Homo sapiens: one gene and its partners. The protein of the gene in region 2 purifies or fractionates together with the protein of the main gene of each other region. This does not show direct contact. Each region holds a gene or a part of one and is shown on either strand. Other genes may lie near its edges.

What was found.
Region 1: the proteins of CTSB (region 2) and AIF1L purify together in Homo sapiens (affinity purification with mass spectrometry, with the first as the bait; one large-scale study listed by BioGRID). This does not show direct contact.
Region 3: the proteins of CTSB (region 2) and GMPS fractionate together in Homo sapiens (co-fractionation; one large-scale study listed by BioGRID). This does not show direct contact.
Region 4: the proteins of CTSB (region 2) and PRDX4 purify together in Homo sapiens (affinity purification with mass spectrometry, with the first as the bait; one large-scale study listed by BioGRID). This does not show direct contact.

What each region holds. Positions count from the first base shown.
Region 1 is NC_000009.12:131,109,153-131,114,180, forward strand, and holds part of AIF1L (allograft inflammatory factor 1-like), read left to right. Parts: intron 1-2,444; coding exon 2,445-2,511; intron 2,512-5,028. UniProt on the Homo sapiens protein: Actin-binding protein that promotes actin bundling. May neither bind calcium nor depend on calcium for function.
Region 2 is NC_000008.11:11,854,547-11,859,574, forward strand, and holds part of CTSB (cathepsin B isoform 1 preproprotein), read right to left. Parts: intron 3,395-5,028; exon of another isoform or gene 3,312-3,394; intron 1-3,311. UniProt on the Homo sapiens protein: Thiol protease which is believed to participate in intracellular degradation and turnover of proteins. Cleaves matrix extracellular phosphoglycoprotein MEPE. Involved in the solubilization of cross-linked TG/thyroglobulin in the thyroid follicle lumen.
Region 3 is NC_000003.12:155,939,272-155,944,299, reverse strand, and holds the end of GMPS (GMP synthase [glutamine-hydrolyzing]), read right to left. Parts: 3' UTR 280-5,028; downstream 1-279. UniProt on the Homo sapiens protein: Catalyzes the conversion of xanthine monophosphate (XMP) to GMP in the presence of glutamine and ATP through an adenyl-XMP intermediate.
Region 4 is NC_000023.11:23,676,615-23,681,642, forward strand, and holds part of PRDX4 (peroxiredoxin-4 precursor), read left to right. Parts: intron 1-2,550; coding exon 2,551-2,673; intron 2,674-5,028. UniProt on the Homo sapiens protein: Thiol-specific peroxidase that catalyzes the reduction of hydrogen peroxide and organic hydroperoxides to water and alcohols, respectively.

The sequences.
Region 1 (5,028 bases), on a different chromosome or scaffold from region 2:
AGTGAGTGCTGTGTGCACTGTGTCCCCCCAGAATGTTGAATGAGTGAATGAATGAATGAATGAATGAATGAAGGAGCAATGTCCATGTCCAGTGAGCTCAGTAATGAAGAATGGAAGGTCCACTGGCCGGGCTCAGTGGCTCACACCTGTAATCCCAGCACTTTGGGAGGTCGAGGTGGGCGGATCACATGAGGCCAGGAGTTCAAGACCAGCCTGGCCAACATGGTAAAATCCCGTCTCTACTAAAAATACAAAAATTAGCCGAGCATGGTGGCACACTCCTGTAGTCCCAGCTACTTGGGAGGCTGAGGCACAAGAATCATTTGAACCTGAGAGGCAGAGGTTGCAGTGAGCCAACATTGCGCCACTGGACTCCAGCCTGGGTGACAAGAGCGAGACTCCGTCTCAAAAAAACAAAAACAAAAACAAAAAAAGAATGGAAGCTCCAAAGAAGAGGGGTTATTTGCAGAGTTCGAGTGGTAGGAGGGGAACAGGCCCTGTGCTTCCCCATCTGAATACAGGTTCCAGGGCTGCTGAAAGATTAGCCGCAAGATACATAAGTTACCTGGCACTGTATCTGGCAGGTGTTCCCTCATTGGTCGCTTTTTGCTGTAAGGTCAGAGACCAGGCCAGATGAACACCTGCAATCTGCCCACCTTTAAAGAATGTAGGGGCTAAGGATGCAGGCTCCAAATGAGATGGAGCCGAGTTGAAGCTCTGGCTTATGAGCCTCAGTTTCCTCACCTGCAAAATGGGTATAATAATAGTAGCTACTGGCCGGGCGCCGTGGCTCACACCTGTAATCCCAGCACTTTGGGAGGCCGAGGCGGGCAGATCACTTGAGTCCAGGAGTTTGGGACCAGCCTGGGCAACAGAGTGAAACCCTGTCTCTACAAAAAATACAAAAATAAGCCAGCCGTGGTGTGGCGCCCATCTGTAGTCCCAGCTACTCAGGAGGCTGAGGTGGGAGGATCACTTGAGATCGGGAGGCGGAGGTTACAGTGAGCTGAGATTGCATCACTGCATTCCAGCCTGGATGACAGAGCAAGACCCTGTTTCAAAATAATAATAACAATAGCTCCCTCTTGGGACTCCTAGGAGATGTGAAGAGATCACATAGGTAAGGGCTTCACCCTGGAGGCCATTGTTAGTGTCCAATCCTCCCCACCCTGCCCATCTGGTCCTGAAAGGACTCATTTGAGTCTCTCCAAGCATCTGAAGGGAAGGCAGGCCAGAGATTAAAACCCCCATTTTACAGGTGAGGAAACAGGTGAGAGGGTAAGTGTACAGTCATTTTCCCGTTAGAGCAGAGACGACGAATTCACACTCTCACTGGATTTCTTTTTTCTTTTCTTTTTTTTTTTTTTTTAAGATGGAGTCTCTCTCTGTCTCCCAGGCTGGAGTACAGTGGCATGATCTCAGCTCACTGCAACCTCCACCTCCCAGGTTTAAGCTATTCTCCTGCCTCAGCCTCCCAAGTAGCTGGGATCACAGGTGCCCACCTCTATGCCCAACTAATTTTTGTATTTTTATAGAGACGGGGTTTCACTATGTTGGCCAGGCTGGTCTCGAGCCCCTGACCTCAGGTGATCGGCCCACCTTGGCCTCCCAAAATGCTGGGATTACAGGCGTGAACCGCCGCACCTGGCCTCACTGGATTTCTATACAAACTCAAGAAGCAGATCATGATTCTCATTTGGTAGATAAGGCAATAGAAGTGTGGGGAGGGCCGGGCGCGGTGGCTCACACCTGTAATCCCAGCACTTTGGGAGTCTGAGGCGGAGGGGTGGGAGCGGGGGGATCAACTGAGGTCAGGAGTTCGAGACCAGCCTGGCCAACATGGTGAAACCCCGTCTCTACTAAAAATACAAAAATTAGCTGGGCATGGTGGCAGGCGCCTGTAATCCCAGCTACTGGGGAGGCTGAGGCAGGAGAATCGCTTGAACCCAGGAGGTGGAGGTTGCAGTGAGCTGAGATCGCGCCATTGCACACCAGCCTGGGGGACAAGAGCAAGACTTCTTAAAAAAAAAAAAAAAAAAGTGCACGGAGGAATGAATGAGCTCAGGATCACATTCCTAAGAAGTTAATGATGGAACCAGGGGCTTGTCTTTGGAGCTCACAGCTTCTCGGATCTGAAGCTGGGGTGTCTTGGGGGAGGGGCACGGGTCCCAGCATTGGTAATGTAGCTGCTGGCTGGAGGGCTTAGTCACCCGTAGTGAACCCTCTGGGGCCTCCCCAAGCTGCTGGGCAAACTTCCTACCCACAGGGTGGCCAGTGCAGATCTGCCTCCAAGGGGCGACAGGAAGCCGGGGTGAACAAGGGACAAACTGGGTCTGGTCGCACCTGGTTACCCGATAGGAGGGAAGGCCCCCGGACAGTGGGCCCATGTGTGGGTGACTTCTGTCCCCAGTCCCTTGCTCAGCACTGTCCTCTCACCTCTGTAGGAGTTTCTGTGTGACCAGAAGTACAGTGATGAAGAGAACCTTCCAGAAAAGCTCACAGCCTTCAAAGGTAAGCTGGGGCGGGCTGCCCTGCATTTATTCCTGGGGGAGGTGGGCTGGCCCCTCATCCTTGCACACAGGACCCCTCAGCCCCACAGGACTAGGCTGTGGCCCTGTTTTGTCCAGAATGCCCTTCTTCCTGGAGAAGGCTTGGAGACAGGGACCCCCTGAGAGGTGGGGAGAGGCCCCTCCACCTGCCTCCCTGCCCCTGCGGGCCCCGTCACCCCTCGCCTGCAGCCCGGTCCTGGCCCTGCCCCTCTCTCTCCCCTCACTGCCCACGGGGCTCAGGCTGGTTCCCGTCCGCCGCTGCCCAGGCCCCGTCACTCCCGGGCCCCGCACACAATCAGCTCTTTGTGAGCAAGCCTTGCCTCTCCCCCTCCCCAGCAGAGCGTCTCAGGAGCCCCTGCGGAGAATGGACGTTTGTGTCACCGCAGTGGGGCAGGGGGGCAGAGTTTCTGCCCATTGAAACCCGGCAGCACGGGATGAAAAGAAAGCAGGGCCTGGGAGCCGGCGCGGGGAGAGGGGCAGCATAAAGGTCCCTCTGTTTGGGGCCCTGGCGCTTGGTTCCCAGCCAGCACCTCGAAAGGAGAGGAGCCGGGCACATAGGGGGCAGCGCAGACCCACCTTCCCTGCCAGGGGAGGCACTTAGGCGCAGGAGCCCTGGGCTGTCATGGAAAATATCCTGGAGGTTGCATTCCCCTCCAAAGTGTTTGCAGTGTGAGCATCCTCCCGGCTCCAGGGCAAAGAACTTGGCCAAGTGTTCCTCAAATCACTTCCAGTTGTCCTTAGGCTGGACATCTAGGGCTAATCATATTAATAACAGCTGGCATTTGTTGGACGTCGGCCTGTGTGAAGCACTTCTCGTGCGGCGTGGCGAGCTCCCCACATCACCCCAATCGGCCTGGAGGAAGATGGCGCACTTGTTAATGTGCAGATGGAGAAACTCGGGCTTGGAGGGCGGGGTTGTTGGCATGGGGACACATAGCTCGCCTAGGGCAGAGTTGGGACTTGAACTCATGTCGGTCTGGCTCCAAAGCCCCTGCTCTCAACTGTTACGCTATGATGCTTTTTACATGAAGAAGAGAGAAGGGAAATAGTAAAAGACACTCCTGACCCCACCCCATCCCAGCCACCTGTAGGAGAGCTGTGAAAAAGAGAGCAGTCTATTCCCTTCTGTCTGCATACCAGCGTGGCCACTCCCAGGGGTGGCTCTGGGAGGAGGCACGGGTCTCAGGGCTCTGGCACCCTTTCTACTTGTCTTCACTGGAATGTTGGGCCAGACAGGAAGTTACATCATTCACTCATTTGTTCTCCAAATGCGCACCTGTACATGTGCCAGGACCATTCCAGGCCAGGGGCACCATGGTGAACGTAAAAGGCAGCTCCCACCCGGGAGCCTGTGTTCTCGCTCGGGGGGCGGTGTGAGAGGTGGTGGGAGACTAAACAGAGAGCCGGGAAATACAAGGTTAGCAGACTGTGGTAGGTGCTTCAGTGAGAAATGAGGGAGGGAGGACAGGAGTGCTCAGCTGTGGGGAGGGGGTGCAATTTTGAAAGGGTGGGGAGGCCAGGCACGGTGGCTCACACCTGTAATCCCAGCACTTTGGGAGGCCGAGGTGGGTGGATCACCTGAGGTCGGGAGTCCAAGACCAGCCCGGCCAACATGGCGAAACCCCATCTCTATTAAAAATACAAAAATTAGCTGTATGTGGTGGTGGGTGCCTGTAATGCCAGCTACTCGGGAGGCTGAGACAGGAGGATTGCTTGAACCCAGGAGGCAGAGGTTGCAGTGAGCTGAGATCAAGCCACTGCACTCAAGCCTTGGTGACAGAATGAGACTCCATCTCAAAAAAAAAAAAAAAAAAAAAAAGCATAATGGTTAAGAACGGGGGCTTTGGAGCCAGACTAACATGGGTTCAAGTCCCAACTCTGCCCTAGGTGAGCTGTGTATCCCCCCTGAGATCACGCCACTACACTTCAGCTTGTGTGACAAAGTGAGATGGAGCAAGACTCCTTCTAAAAAAAAGAAGAAAAAGAAAGGGTGGGGAGCCCTGAAGCCATGAGGAAGGGTGCTGAGAATACTTGGGAGAACATTCCAGGCAGAGGGGCAGCGAGCTGGAGCAGGCAGGGAGTGGGCGGGGGCAGCACAGCCTGCAGGAGGGCCTCGGCTTTCTCTGCTGGCTGCTTGTGGGGCAGGATGGACCATGAGGGCCCCACTCTGCCCGGGCAGGGGGTGACCTGCAGAGGCCCCACGGTCCGTTTGACACACTGCTCCCATCTGAACATACCAAGCCCACTGCTCCGACATCCTCCCTCACTGCTAGAAGTTTTCCTGGACTCCTTGATCAGGGAAGTATAACTCAGTCTGTGTGTGAGGTTTGGGGTGATGGTCTGTGTACCCCGGGAAACTGTATGTCCACTTTGTGGGCTAGGGCAGGCCTTTTTCCTGGTTTCAGAATCACAGGTCCCCTGAATCAGTGGTTCCCACACCCGGTTGCCCATCAGAACTGCCTGGGACGCTAAAAAGCAC
Region 2 (5,028 bases):
GGTACAGTGGCACAATCTTGGCTCACTGCAGCCTCCACCTCCCAGGTTCTTAGCCTCCCAAGTAGCTGGGATTACAGGTGTGCGCCACCACACGCACCTAATTTCTGTATTTTTAGTAGAGATGGGGTTTTACCATGTTAGCCAGGCTGGTCTCGAACTCCTGACCTCAGGTGATCCACTGGCCTCAGCCTCCCAAAGTGCTGGGATTACAGGTGTGAGCCACCGCACCCAGCCAGTGGAAAAGAGCTCTGACGGGAGCCCAGCCCTCTGGGGCAGCACATGTGTCGTAAAATGCTGGGTGATGCTCATCAGCACAGCACCCAACGGACCACTCAGAAGCACATCCTCCGTGGAGGAATCAGCGTTACCTAGGTGAGGCCAGAGAGGAAACAGGACAGTGCTTGTACAAGTGGCTGCCTGAAGTCTGAATCTTCACACTGGACTCCTCACACACAAAAAGTACCACATGCAACACAGAATTGTTTTGTTTTTTTGAGACGGAGTCTTACTCTGTCCCCCAGGCTGGAGTGCAATGGCATGATCTCGGCTCACTGCAACCTCTGCCTCCTGGGTTCAAGCTATTCTCCTACCTCAGCTTCCCGAGCAGCGGGATTACAGGCATGTGCCATCATGCCCAGCTAATTTTCATATTTTTAGTAAAGACAGGGTTTCACCATTTTGGCCAGGCTGGTCTCGAACGCCTGACCTCGTGATCCACCTGACTCAGCCTCCCAAAGTGCTGCGATGACAGGCGTGAGGCACCGCACCAGGCCCACAGATCTTAATTTAAAAAGTTTTATGAAAAAAATCAATGCCCTTTGAAAAACAGGCTGGGTGCGGTGGCTGATGCCTATAATCCCAGTACTTTGGGAGGCCAAGGCAAGTGGATCACTTGAGGCCAGGTGTTCAACACCAGCCTGGACAACATTGTGAGACCCCATCAATATAGAAAATAAAGTTTTTTAAAAAGGTAATGCTGGAGGAAAGCTTAGGATTGACAGGAAACACAGCCTTCAAGGGAAAATGCTTGCATTACACTGAAAAGTCTCTTTAAAACAAAAACTGACGAAACAAAGCAGTACTCACATATACTTTAGGCTTCGTTTCCACAAAAGGCTCTTCAAAGTCAGAAAAATGGAACCAGCATAATAGAAAAACTACAAATGGCCAACACAGATAAAAATAAGTTCAACCGGCATGGTGGCTCAAGCTTGTAATCTCAGCACTTTGGGAGGCTGAGGCAGGTGGATCGCCTGAGGTCAGGAGTTTGAGACCAGCCTGGCCAACATGGTGAAACCCCGTCTCCACTAAAAATACAAAAATTACCCAGGTGTGGTGGCAGGTGCCTGTAATCGCAGCTACTTGGGAGGCTGAGACAGGAGAATTGCTTCAACTCACTTGAACCCAGGAGGTGGAGATTGCAGTGAGCCAAGATTTCACCACTGCATTCCTGCCTGGGTGACAGTGAGACTCTGCCTCAAAAATAAAATAAAATAAAGTAAAATAAGTTCAACCTCAGGGAGGTGCAGATAAAATCAAGGAGGTATTCAGCATGTATCAGATTGGCAAGGGCTGGACAGTTTGGCACTTCTTGCAGGGCTTAGGAAGTGGGGAAACGGAAGGCATGATAATGAGTGCCTGGGGTGGGTGGGCACAACCACCGAGACATCAACCAGCAACGCCCACCAGTTTCTAAATCTGCATGTCCTGGAAATGAATCAAGTATCCAATAACAGAGTAACTGTTAAATTACGGTAAGTGGTTAAATAGAATATGAAGCAACCATTAAAAAAGCAATTAGTTGGTGGGGCACGGTGGCGCATGCCTGTAGCCGAGGCGGTTGGATCACCTGAGGTCAGGAGTTAGAGACCAGCCTGACTAAGGTGGTGAAACCCTGTATCTACTAAATACAAAAAATTAGCCAGGCGTGGTGGCGCATGCCTGTAATCCCAGCTACTTGGGAGGCTGAGGCAGTAGAATCACTTGAACCCAGGAGGCAGAGGCTGCACTCCAGCCTGGACGACAGATTGAGACTTCATCTAAAAATAATAATAATAAAATAAAAGTAAAAAACCAACTAGTTGAAGTGAATTCTATTGTATTAACAGAGTAAAAATGCCCCAAGTCCCAATGTTAAGTGGGGAAAAAGCAAGCTGTGGGTGACTGAGGACCATAAGCATCTGACCCTCTCAGCAATCTACACATGTAGGAACACTCCTGCCACTACATGCAAAATGCCAAGGAAGATGCACGGCAGTCGGTCACTACGGTGGGGAGACTTTTTTTCACAACATACCCTTACTTTTAAGAAAAAAAAAAAAGTGAGTATGTTCCTATTATTTCAGTTTTGTTTCTTCTAGGAAAAATAGTTGGCAGTATTACTAAAGGCCCTGAGCCACCAAACTGATAAAAGGACATTTGTTTTAATGATTCCTCAGAGCATTTCCAATTTGGTCTTCCTTCCCACCAATGAGGCTTCCTCCCTAGTGACTTTGAGATGGGAGTCTCGCTCTGTGGCACATGCTGGAGTACAGTGGCGCAATCTTGGCTCACTGAAACCTCTACCTCCCAGGTTCAAGTGATTCTTGTGCCTCAGCCTCCTGAGTAGCTGGGATTACAGGCCTGTGCTACCACGTTTGGCTAATTTTTGTAGTATAGTCCGTGTTTCGTTATGTTGGCCAGGCTGGTCTTGAACTCCTGGCTTCAAGGGATCTAACTGCCTCAGCTTCCCAAAGTGCTAGGATTACAGGCATGAGCCACTGGACCTGGCCCCTAGTGACTTTCTTAATAATCTTCCCCTTTTCCGTGACTCGTGGGTAGGCAGCGTCTCACGTGGCCATGCATGTCAGTGACCCACACAGCCTCCACACTGTGAGGTTAGCATGTCTCGTGGGCAGACAGCAGTGTCCTTGGATGTACCCGGGGGCTTTGTGCTGTAGAGATGTTATTTTAAATAATAAGCCAAGTCGAGGATGGGAGCGTTTCCATGGCAACTTGAATTTTAAAACCAAGATTTCTTTGGTTACTGTGGTGGCTGAGAACACAGGCAGCTGCCATGTCCAGTGGCTCTCAACTCCTGGAGGACAACCTGCCGTGGCCATTCCCTGGAGTCCCACAGGGCCCCCTCGCCACTTCACTAGCAGGCGACTTCCCTGCACCCGCCCTCCTTTTCATGGTTCCCAGGCCCTCCCACACCTCCCTGTGCTCCCTACTCATTCCCAGGCTCCCCGGGGCCACCGCTGCCAGCCCCAGGGCCCAGCCCATTCCACTAGTCCCAGGCTGAGCGCTGGGAAGTTCTTTCAGCCCCGCACCTTGGCCCAGGGCTGTGGTGTTCCTGGCTTCTCTGCTCCTCCCCTATGGTATCCAGGTTGGGGCTCAAGGGGCCGCCAGCGTGCTGCAACCGGACGATAAAATGAGCCCTGCACTTGGAGTCAGGAGACCTGCATTTGGATCTGGCTCTGCCACTGACTAAATGGCACCCTTGGGGTCTGACCTTCCCCAAGCCTCAGTTTCACCACCTATAAAATGGAGCTAGTAACCATCGTGTCTCAGGTGGCAGTCAAGAATGAAATGAGGAGGACCAAAGCGCCGGCACATGCCTGGCATGCAGTGATAAGGTAGGAAGGGCACTCGCTCCAGCGGGCTCTGTTCCCTCCCTCTCTCCTCTAACACTTCTAGCTCTCAGTTCACACTAAACCTATTCCAATAGGTCCCCAACGCCAGGAAGAGTCTAAATGAAAACAAGTTTGTTTTTTTTGTTTGTTTTAAGACAGGATCTCACTCTGTTGCCCAGGCTGGAGTGCAGTGGCACGATCATGGCTCACTGCAAACTCTGCCTCCTGGGCTCAAGAGATCTGCTCCCCTCAGCCTCCTAAGGAGCTGGGACTACAGGCATACACCACTACGCCCAGCTTTGTATTTTTTGTAGAGATGGGGTTTTGCTATGTTGCCCAGGCTGGTCTCAAACTCCTGGACTCAAGTGATCTGCCCGCCTTGGCCTCCCAAAGTGTCGGGATTATAGGTGTGAGCCACCATGCCCAGTAAAACAAGCTCTTAACTTCAATTAACCCCAGCATTTAACATCCAAAAATGCTTCCACTCTTGAGGGTCCCGAGACTGCTGAGAACTCAAAAAGTGTCAAGCCAAACACAGAGGTCCTGACAGCAGTGGCAATCTCACTCCATTGTGCAACAGGCGCCTTTCTCTCCACAACAACGCAAATCTCAATCACTCTGGACAAATGCAGATGGTGAAAGTGACAAGCTGAGCTGTTAACAGCTTTCCAGGGTCTTTGCATGGGACAGCAACCCATTTTCACTTCCCTTTATATAGGCACCCACTTCCCTTTTATTTCTTAATTCTGTGCTTTCTGCTCTGCTTCTTACAAGAGATGATGAACACAAAGTCCTTATTTCACGAGGGAAGGATGTGAACTCTTGTGTGCCACAAGACCCCTTTCCAGGATGCGGGCTGGTGGAAGAACAGCTGCGAGCAGATGTCATCTCTAGACCTTGGTCTGCTGTGCTGCTTAGGCAGACCTGAGTTCCAGTGCACCCCTCTGCCCCTTTTCCAAGCTAATCTTTGGGTTAAAAAAAACAGAAAAGGGTGCTCCTCATATCCTCTCTCTCCAAACCTGCAGAGCACTTATGAGAAAGCACGCTCCACCCCGGCTCTGTAGAACGTTGTTATGTGCCAAAAAGAGTGTGCGGCCAGGCGACTCTATCAACCAGAGCACCTTCCTCCCCCGGCAAACGGCACCCTAGACTACCTTGAAGCCGTTTCCAGGACAAATAGGGACCTTGCGATCCTGGAAGGAGGTGGAATGAAAGTCAAAGGAGAGGAGGTGCGGCTAAGTCACAGGAGGTGTTAAGTCCTGACACCCTTAAAGAATCAGTTTTGGGCTGCCACCAAGCTCAATAAAGAAGGCTTTCTGGCCAGGCACAGTGGCTCATGCCTGTAATCCCAGCGCTTTGGGAGGTCAAGGCAGGCGGATCACCTGAGGTCAGGAGTTCGAGACCAGCCTGTCTC
Region 3 (5,028 bases), on a different chromosome or scaffold from region 2:
AAGGGCACTGACTTGAAGGGAAACAAACCACAGTAATATGACTGCCTGAAAGTAACTATGGAATTCAGTTTCTCAAAGTGATTACTTCTTCTAATCTTCATATTGATGACTCACTAGTACATTTACTTTGATGGGTTTAATCAACTCTGATAACATAGTTCCAAACACTTAAAAGGACCTGATTTATGTATTAAATAAAGGTTAATTTGTTCTTGAGAAATTGACAAAAGATTTGGTCAAACGTAAATGAATATGCAATAAGTCACATAAGTCTGTGTGTATATACATATATGACTTTAATTTTATAAGTGCATGTGTATACGCACACCTTTAGCTCATTTAAATAAAAAGCTATCCAATGTTTTATGTCCATTATGTCCCCCGTTAACATTGAGCAAAATGTTAACCCCTACTATATATGCAAGGGAAATAAATTAAGTTGTTATATAGAAACCCTTGACACTATATGCAATTTCTTATGTCCCATATTCTGATAATATCTGTCCTCTTGGCTCTTACTTCTTGGAATTTCTCATAAACACGGAAGCTTCATGACAAATTGTGTAAATCATCATTTCCTCCTTTATGAAGTATATTGAAGACAAAAGGGATTAAAGTCATTTCACATTTAGCAAAGCTATTTTATGGCAACATTGTTACAACACAAAATAGACATTGCAGTTTACAATTAACAATTACACAGTGATTTCATAACAATACTACTTACTCCAATTAACAAAATATTTCTTTATAAAAAATATGTTCAAAAGGAGGTTTACATTCACTTCTTCGTTTAATATCAAGGTTGTTAACAATGGTCTTAGGAGATGCAAAGACGAAAAACTACTTACCTTAAAAATCTGTATTCTTGAAGATATATACTCCACTTGAATAAGATACTGCTCAAGGTTTAGGCTTCCTGGAGAACTCAGAGGATTTTGTAGTTGTACTTAATATACTCAATAGCCAAATTTCCTAAACTTTCATAATTTTGCTAACCAAGGGCCCTTAACAAAGTTAAAAGACACCACAGGGTTCAAAAGTGAACAAATATGTTGTTTTTGTTTTAAGACGGAGTCTCATTCTTGTCACCTAGGCTGGAGTGCAGTGGCGCAATCTCTGCTCACTGCAACCTCCATCTCCCGGGTTTAAGTGATTCTCACACCTCAGCCTTCCGAGTAGCTGGGATTACAGGCGCGCGCCACCAAGCCCAGCTAATTTTTACATTTTTAGTAGAAATGGGGTTTCACCATGTTGGCCACGCTGGTCTCAAACTCCTGACCTCAAGAGATCCGCCCGCCTCGGCCTCCCAAAGTGCTGGGATTACAGGCATGCGCCACTGTGCCTGGTCACAAATATGTTAATGAGCCAATTAAGATGGTGCTGCTCAAATGATTCTAATTCAGGAAACTTAGGTTGCAGCTAGGTAATCTCTAGTTCTCTAAAGAATAATACCCAAATGACAGGATTTATGTGTTGATGCAATAATAGCTCAGTCTGTTTCATGACCTAGCTAGAGTCAGAATTGGAGCGGTGGCTATAGCACAGGGGTGGCTTTCTCCTCTCTGAAGGAAAAGTAAAGAAGTAAGAAGAAAGAGGTTGAAAGAACAGCCTACACAGTTGTTGCCCAGATCTCAAAATTAGCAACAAGTATGTCAGCTGTCCTAATTATTACCAAACAGGTCCTGGGAGTGTCTGACACACAACATAATATAGGTGCAATCAGTTCCAGAATCTGGTTCCTGGATCTGAACTAATTTAGCTATAAGACCTTCAGCAAGACCATCTCTATGGCCTGCATCTCTCTCCTATAGGTTTGACAAAGATTCACCTATGAGTTTGATGAAGACAGGCTAGGTATGGCCCTCAATAAGAATTTATTCTGACTGGGAGATTTAAAACTGTAAATGCTTGCCGGGCGTGGTGGCTCACGCCTGTAATCCCAGCACTCTGAGAGGCCGAGGCGGGCGGATCATGAGGTCGGGAGATCGAGACCATCCTGTATAACACAGTGAAACCCTGTCTCTACTAAAAAGTACAAAAAAATTAGCCGGGCGTAGTGGCGGGCGCCTGTAGTCCCAGCTACTCGGGAGACTGAGGCAGGAGAATGGCGTGAACCCACGAAGCGGAGCTTGCAGTGAGCCGAGATTGTGCCACTGCACTTGGGGACAGAGCGAGACTCTGTCTTAAAAAAAAAACAAAACAAAACTGTAAATGCTTGAGTTCTACCTCCTCCAGATTCTAATTTTATTTAATTGGACATCTGGTTATTGTATTTTTTAACTCCTCAGGTTATGTAATAATACGCATCCAGTGTTGAGGAACACTGACAAAAAGGTTAGAGTTCAGTGAGACACTGAGGCCTCTTCAGTACATAAAAATAGGGTTGGAAGTTAGCATCTTGACACTCTTTGGGGGATTCTATATCTCTTCACTTGCCATTAAGTGAAACGTTCAGAAATTTAAGAGTCAACAATGCCACCATTACTGCTGTCAAAGTCCTTCAGTGATTAAAAAGATACCAGAAAGATACCCTGATCCCTTGATCATCTGGTGGTGTTAAACTACTTCAGTAAGAACAAAAGATGTGCTTTCCAAGGGTGGAGACATCCAACTTGTATTCAGTTCCCCATTACATTCTGGATTTGGGTCAATGAAAGAAGCATCCATTGGGGTGATAGCTAAGGCGTGTCCTCGCCACATATCAATGAGATTTCTGGAGGGGAGTAGTGTGGGAAAGTGGTTATAACATTGCGCAAGCAGATGTCAGAGAATTTCTGAAAGACAGGGCTATCTCTAGAAACTCACTGTAAGTAAGGAGACAATTAACACTTTTGAAGCCCATTTATCCCTGATGGTCAATTACACACTAAGAACTTCCTTTTTTTTTTTTTTTTGAGACTGAGTCTCGCTCTTTCACCAGGCCGGAGTGCAGTGGCACTATCTCAGCTCACTGCAAGCTCCGCCTCCTGGGTTCAGGCCATTCTCCTGCCTCAGCCTCCCGAGTAGCTGGGACTACAGGCACCCGCCACCGCGCCCAGCTAATTTGTTGTATTTTTAGTAGAGATGGGGTTTCACCGTGTTAGCCAAGATGGTCTCGATCTCCTGATCTCGTGATCCACCCACCTCGGCCTCCCAAAGTGCTGGGATTACAGGCATGAGCCACCGCGCCCGGCCAAGAACTTCCTTTTAAGATTTGCCCTGAAGGGCCCTAGAGCATTTCCTCTTCCATGCAGAGAATCAGAAAGCTTGGATTCTAGCTCTAGCTCCCAACAATTAGCTGTATGTAATTGATGATGGGTGACTTCATTAGTGTCAAAGCCAAAGCATATTCTCTGTCAGCTTTTCAAAAAAACACGCAGTAAAGAGAGATTCCTACCAGGAAAACTTTGATGGGTGTTTTTCAAGTGTCATCTCACAGCAGAAGATGCCCCAAGTGGTCAAACCTTGCCAACAGCTTCAAAAAAAGGTAACTAGGATTTAACTTTACGGTGCATTTTGATGTTTCCCTTTGTGTCATATCTGATGATAAAAGAACCTTAAAAAAAAAAAAAAAAAACACTATCCAGCTTCTCCATTCTGTCTCCTGCTTTACTTTCTCTTGTTTACAAAATACAAATTTATAGCTGGATTTGATGCTGAAAATTTAATACAGTTACCTCATGTCACAGATAAAGAACAGAAATGACTTGACCAAGTTCACATTGTTGTTTAACGGCAGGAAAAGCACTAAAGATGGATAGTCCTGCCTTCCTAATTTGAATGCTCTTATTCTCTACAGGTTAGGGTCAAGTTATTCAGTAAAACAGGCTATCAGGAGGTTAAGCCCAAACAGTGAGGAAACAAATTTTATGATGCTTGTTTGACTAAATGCATGCAGTTTACCTCAAGATTAAGGGATTTAAAAAAGGTTAGAAAACAGTGTAACCCTATCTCCTGGATATATCTACAGACTTGTATTTAGGAATTATGCCAGGCTGTTATTTCTAACAGAGCTGATGATCATAGATGTGGCCTTTAAGGCAGGACTGGGTATTTGGTTCTTAAAAATGATTCTGTGCCTGCCAATCTTAGGAATAAATAATGCTTTCAATGATCTACATTCTCTGTCTACCTAAAAAGTACAAAGAAAAAGAATATATTTAATCAAAGAGAGATGTGTCCCAGGTAGATGGTAAGCAACGGGAATAAAGTCATGATATGCCCAGAATAACCAATGATGAATGTTATTAGCCAGGTAGCCACCATTCTAGTCTTAGTAAAATAAGCATCCCATAAATGTTTATATAATTTTAGGTGTCAGAATACACATCAGGACAATCTGGACTAAGGAAACCTGAAATTTAATTCTGAAATTAATTAAGTAACCATGCCTAAGGTGAGCTTGTTTTCTTAACTGTAAAATGGAAGTGCAACCTTTAACTTTCCTCAGTGGCTCAGATGAAATACTGTGAAGGTACAGAGTAATGCTATATGGCACAAAGCAAAAAGTGCTGTGCAAAAGAAGACAGTGTGCTAAATATTAGGAAATTTCTGAGTTCCAGAAAATTTGGATTTTTAAGAAACTATGTCATGTCAAGATGTGCTTTGGAGTAACAATTTTCCCAATATTATATTAAGTATATACTAAGTATATATTAGAAGGGATTATATAAAAGGTGTTCAAAAAACAAATATCAGGAAAACACTAATTTAAGCAGAATTTAACAATTGTTTTTAACTTCAGAATTTCTCAGAGCTTTGAATATTATATACCATGAATCTCCAGGAAAGGACAAGTGAGCTTATGTTCCCCAAACTTATATGACCACCTAATCCTTTTTACATGGACCTTCTCAGTGGAGCAGTGTTCCATAGAACACACATTCTTACTCTCTATTTTTCCAAAATTCCTACTGTTTGCTTCAATACAAAATCATAAGACACTGTGGCTAGAAATTTTTTTTCATATAAACATAAACGTGTACTGACACATGTTGGTAAGCATTTTATAGGTTGTCTATTCTAGCTTTCAAATAACATGACTCT
Region 4 (5,028 bases), on a different chromosome or scaffold from region 2:
ACCCCATCTATACAAAAAATAAAAAAAATTAGCCAGGTCTGGTGGTGCATGCCTGTGGTCCCAGCTACTCGGGAGCCTGAGATGGAAGGATGACCTGAGCCTAGGTGGTCGAGGCTGTAGTGAGCCAAGATCATACCACTGCACTTCAGCCTGGGCAATAGAGTGAGATCCTGTCTCAAAAAAAAAAAAAAAATTAAAATATAGGCTTAATTTGCTTCATCATTTCCTTTAAAAAAAGAAAGACAGGGTCTTACTATGTTGCCCAGGCTGGAGTGCAGTGGCACAATCAATCATAGCTCCCTGCAGCCTTGAACTCCTGGGCTCCAACAATCCTTCTACCTCCCCAAATAGTTGGGACTGCAAGCTTGCACCACCATACCTATTTTAATTTTTATTTTTGTAGAGATGGAGTCTTGCCATGTTGCCCGGGCTGTGCTTCATCACTTCTGTAGTAATTATAAATCTTCCGAGGATTAAAATGCATATCCACTAAGGAAAAAGTTATGGCATCCCAAATAATTTGGGATTGCTTTCCCAAGGAAATTTGGGGATACATTCTCAGCCTGATAGGGTTCACATCAACCAGAAATTTCTACTTGGGTGTCAGAACTGGGGCTCCAGATATCTAGAGCAATGTCGTTTTGTTTTCTATCTGCTGTGTCAGTACCCTCCTGTTAGAGCATCAGCCCATGTCTCCTGGTTTCAAGTTACAGAATACAGATTGAGCGTCCCTAACCTGAAATCCACAGTGTTCCAAAATTCAAAATTTGAGTGCTGACATGATGCTCAAAGGAAATGCTTAGTGAAGCATTTCAGAGTTCAGATTAGGGATGTTCAACCAGTAAGTATGCAGATATACCAAAATCGGAAAAAATCCTAAATCCAAAACACTTCTGGTCCCAAGCACTTCCGATAAGGGATACTCAACCTGTAGTGAAGACTGAGGCATCTGATATTATAACTCACTTCCTTCACTGCTTCAAGTGGACTTTGCATTTGTCTCTCAGAATATTAAAATGTCATCCATTTGTATCCTGCCTGTCTGTTCAAGGCTTTATCTTATGATCACACTACTAAGGTTATGCTTTTGATACTACGTATCTTTTGATCTATCAGTTTCACTTTCAGAAATCAATTAGACAAGTGTATAAAAGTAAGAATACAAGGATGTTTTCAGCAGTGTTTATAAAGCAAAAAAAAAAGGTAAATGGTTTAAATCTTCATCATGGAATTAAGTAAAATACAGTAAAGATGTTCCTGACTTACGATGGTTTGACGTATAATTTTTCAACTTTACAGTGGGTTTATGGGATAGTAAATACATTTTTAGCTAATGATATTTTCAATTTATGATGTGTTTATCAAGACACAGCCCCAGCCGGGCACAGTGGCCTGTAATCCCAGCACTTTGGGAGGCCAAGGTGGGCGGATCACCTGAGGTCAAGTGTTTGAGACCAGCCTGGCCAACGTGGCGAAACCCCATCTCTATTAAAAATACGAAAAATAGCTGGGCGTGGTGGCGGGTGCCTGTAATCCCAGCTACTTACAAGGTTGAGGCAGCAGAATCACTTGAACCTGGGAGGCAGAGGTTGCAGTAAGCCAAGATCGTGCCATTGCACTCCAGCCTGGGTGACAGAGCAAGACTCCATCTCAAAAAAAAAAAAGAAAGAAAGAAACAACCCCATCTTAAGTCAAGGAGTATCTGTGTATCCATACATTAAAAATGTGTTATAGGCCAGGCGCGGTGGCTCACGCCTGTAATCCCAGTACTTTGGGAGGCCAAGCCGGGTGGATCACCTGAGGTCAGGAGTTCGAGACCAGCCTGGCCAACATGGTAAATCCCTGACTCTACTAAAAATGCAAAAATCAGCCAGGTGTGGTGGCACATGCCTGTAATCCCAGCTACTTGGGAAGCTGAGGCAGGAGAATCGCTTGAACCTGGGAGGCAGAGGTTGCAGTGAACCGAGATCACGCTGCTGCACTCCAGCCTGGGCGACAGAGCAAGACTCCGTCTCAGAAAAAACAAAAATGTGTTGTAGGCTGAGCACAATGGCTCACGGCTATAATCCCAGCACTTTGGGAGGGTGAAGCAGGAGGATTGCTTGAAGCCAGGAGTTCGAGACCAGCCTGGGTAACAAAGCCACACCCCATCTCTACAAAAAAGTGTTTAAAACATTAGCCCAGTGGGATGGTGCACACCTGTAGTCCCAGCTTCTCAGGGGGCTGAGGCAAGAGGATCGCTTGAGCCTAGAAGTTTTAGGCTACGCTGAGCTATGATCACGTCACTGCCCTGCAGCCTGGGAGACAGAGCAAGACCCTGTCTCAAAAACATAAAATAAAAATGTGTTGTGTATATATATTTTTAATGTTTAAAGGATATGAATATATTAAATGGGAAAAGCAAGAAAATAGAAAGTATATTAGCCTGTTTTTGTTAGTGAAAGAATGTGTGTATTTCATGTGTGTGCGTGTGCATGTATAGAGAAAGAGTGCTGTTTTAATATATGCCGTTTACTTAGCTCTGAGAGGTAAGCGTTCTGTTTGTTACAGGATTAATACCCCTCGAAGACAAGGAGGACTTGGGCCAATAAGGATTCCACTTCTTTCAGATTTGACCCATCAGATCTCAAAGGACTATGGTGTATACCTAGAGGACTCAGGCCACACTCTTAGGTACCTTTCAGTGGTTTTATATTATGACAAATCCAAGCGTGTTTATAATCCTCCTTGAAATAGATGTTATTTATGAAATAGAAGAACAAATTTTGATCAAGAAATATAATTTTGAGGCCAGGCACGGTAGCTCAAGCCTGTAATCCTGGCACTTTGGGAGGCCACGGTGGGCAGATTACTTGAGGTCAGGAGTTTGAGACCAGCCTGGCCAACATGGTGAAACCCTGTCTCTACCAAAAAATATAAAAATTACCCAGGCATGGTGGCGTATGCCTGTAGTCCCAGCTACTCGGGAGGCTGAGGTGGGAGAATTGCTTGAACCTGGGAGGCGGAGGTTTCAGTGAGCCCAGATCATGCCACTGCACTCCAGCCTGGGCGACAGAGTGAAAAAAAAAAAAAAGAAATAATTGGCTGGGCATGGTGGCTCACGCCTATAATCCCAGCACTTTGGGAGGCCGAGGGGGGCAGATCATGATGTCAAGATATCGAGACTATCCTGGCCAACCAACATGGTGAAACCCCATCTTTACTAAAAAATACAAAAATTAGCTGGGCATAGTGGCATACGCTTGTAGTCCCAGCTACTCGGGAGGCTGAGGCAGGAGAATCGCTCGAACCCAGGAGGCGGAGGTTGCGGTGAGGCGAGATCACGCCACCGCACTCCAGCCCAGGCGACAGAGCAAGACTCCGTCTCAAAAAGAAAAAAAGAAAGAAAGAAAAATGTTACTTTGTTCTATTAGTCTTTAAACTACTAAACTTAAACCGTTAGTTTATATTACCCTGATTAAACTATGTTAGCATCATAGACTTTTAGAGCTGGAAGATTATTTAGAGGTCTTTCACCCACCCTGTCATCTTACAGATAAAAGAGACAGATTCATAGAGTTCCGTGATCTTAGCCAAAGTTATATAATAATTTAATTGCAGAGCCCAGACTTAAATCCAGGTCCCCCAACTCCTTGTCCATTTCTTTTTCCTTTTTTGCAACCTGACTCCAGTAATGTTTTTTTCTAAATACAAGTGTCATACTACTTAGCAAACCTGTGTCTTTGGAGTAGGAAAAATTAAGGAAATATTTTACCCAGACGCTCTCACTGGGTTACTTGAGCTAACAAACATTAATAGAATTCTTTGAAAAGGGGGCAATTTTAGTGTGGAACAGTTGTAATTTGGTTGTATTGATTTGCTTTGTAGTGCCAATAGTTTTTCTTGAATGTTTTATGTGAAAGTGTCAGTATTTTATAATCCTGTGTTTTTTTATAACAACTTTATTGGAATATAGTTCACATATAATACAATACCCATTTAAAGAATACAATTCAGCTGGGCATGGTAGTTCATGCCTGTAATCCCAGCTCTTTGGGAGACCTAGGTGGGAGGATCCCTTGAGCCCAGGAGTTTGAGACTAGTCTGGGCAACATAACAAGACCCTTGTCTTCTACAAAAAAAAAAAAATAATTTTTTTTTGTTAAATTAGGCCATTGTGGTGGCACATTCCTGTAGTCCCAGCCTACTCAAGAGGCTGAGATAAGAGGATCGCTAGAGCCTGGAAGTTCAAGGTTGCAATGATCTATGATCACACCACTGCACTCTCGCCTGGGTAACAAGAGTGAGACCCTGTCTCTAAAAAAATAATTAAAATTAAAAATAAAGAATACATAGCCGGGCGCAGTGGCTCACGCCTGTAATCCCAGCACTTTGGGAGGCCAAGGCAGGCGGATCACGAGGTCAGGAGATCGAGACCATCCTGGCTAACACGGTGAAACCCCATCTCTACTAAAAAAAATAGAAAAAATTAGCCGGGCGTGGTGGCGGGTGCCTGTAGTCCCAGCTACTCGGGAAGCTGAGGCAGGAGAATGGCGTGAACCCTGGGGGGCGGAGTCTGCAGTGAGCCGAGATCGCGCCACTGCACTTCAGCCTGGGCGACAGCGAGACTCCGTCTCAAAAAAAAATAAATAAATAAAGAATACATTTCAGTGGTTTTTGTGTATTCACAGAGTTGTGCAACCATCACCACAATTTTAGAATGTTTTCATGCTCCAAAAAACCCCATACCCATTAGCAGTCACTCCATGTTTCCCCTAACCCACTTCCCCTGGCTTTAGGCAACCACAAATCTACTTTATGTCTCTATAGTTGCCTATTCTGGACATTTCATATAAATGGAATCCTACAATATGTGCTTTTATGACTAGCCTCTTTCACGCAGCATAATGTTCTCAAGGTTCATTGTATTGTATCATGTATTGCTACCAGTAGTTTCCCCTCTTTTGTACTTGCTAAGTATTTAATGTTTTCTGCTTTCATAAAATCTGTTACTAAGTTAATTTCCAAGAATAAATATGCCCCAAAAAC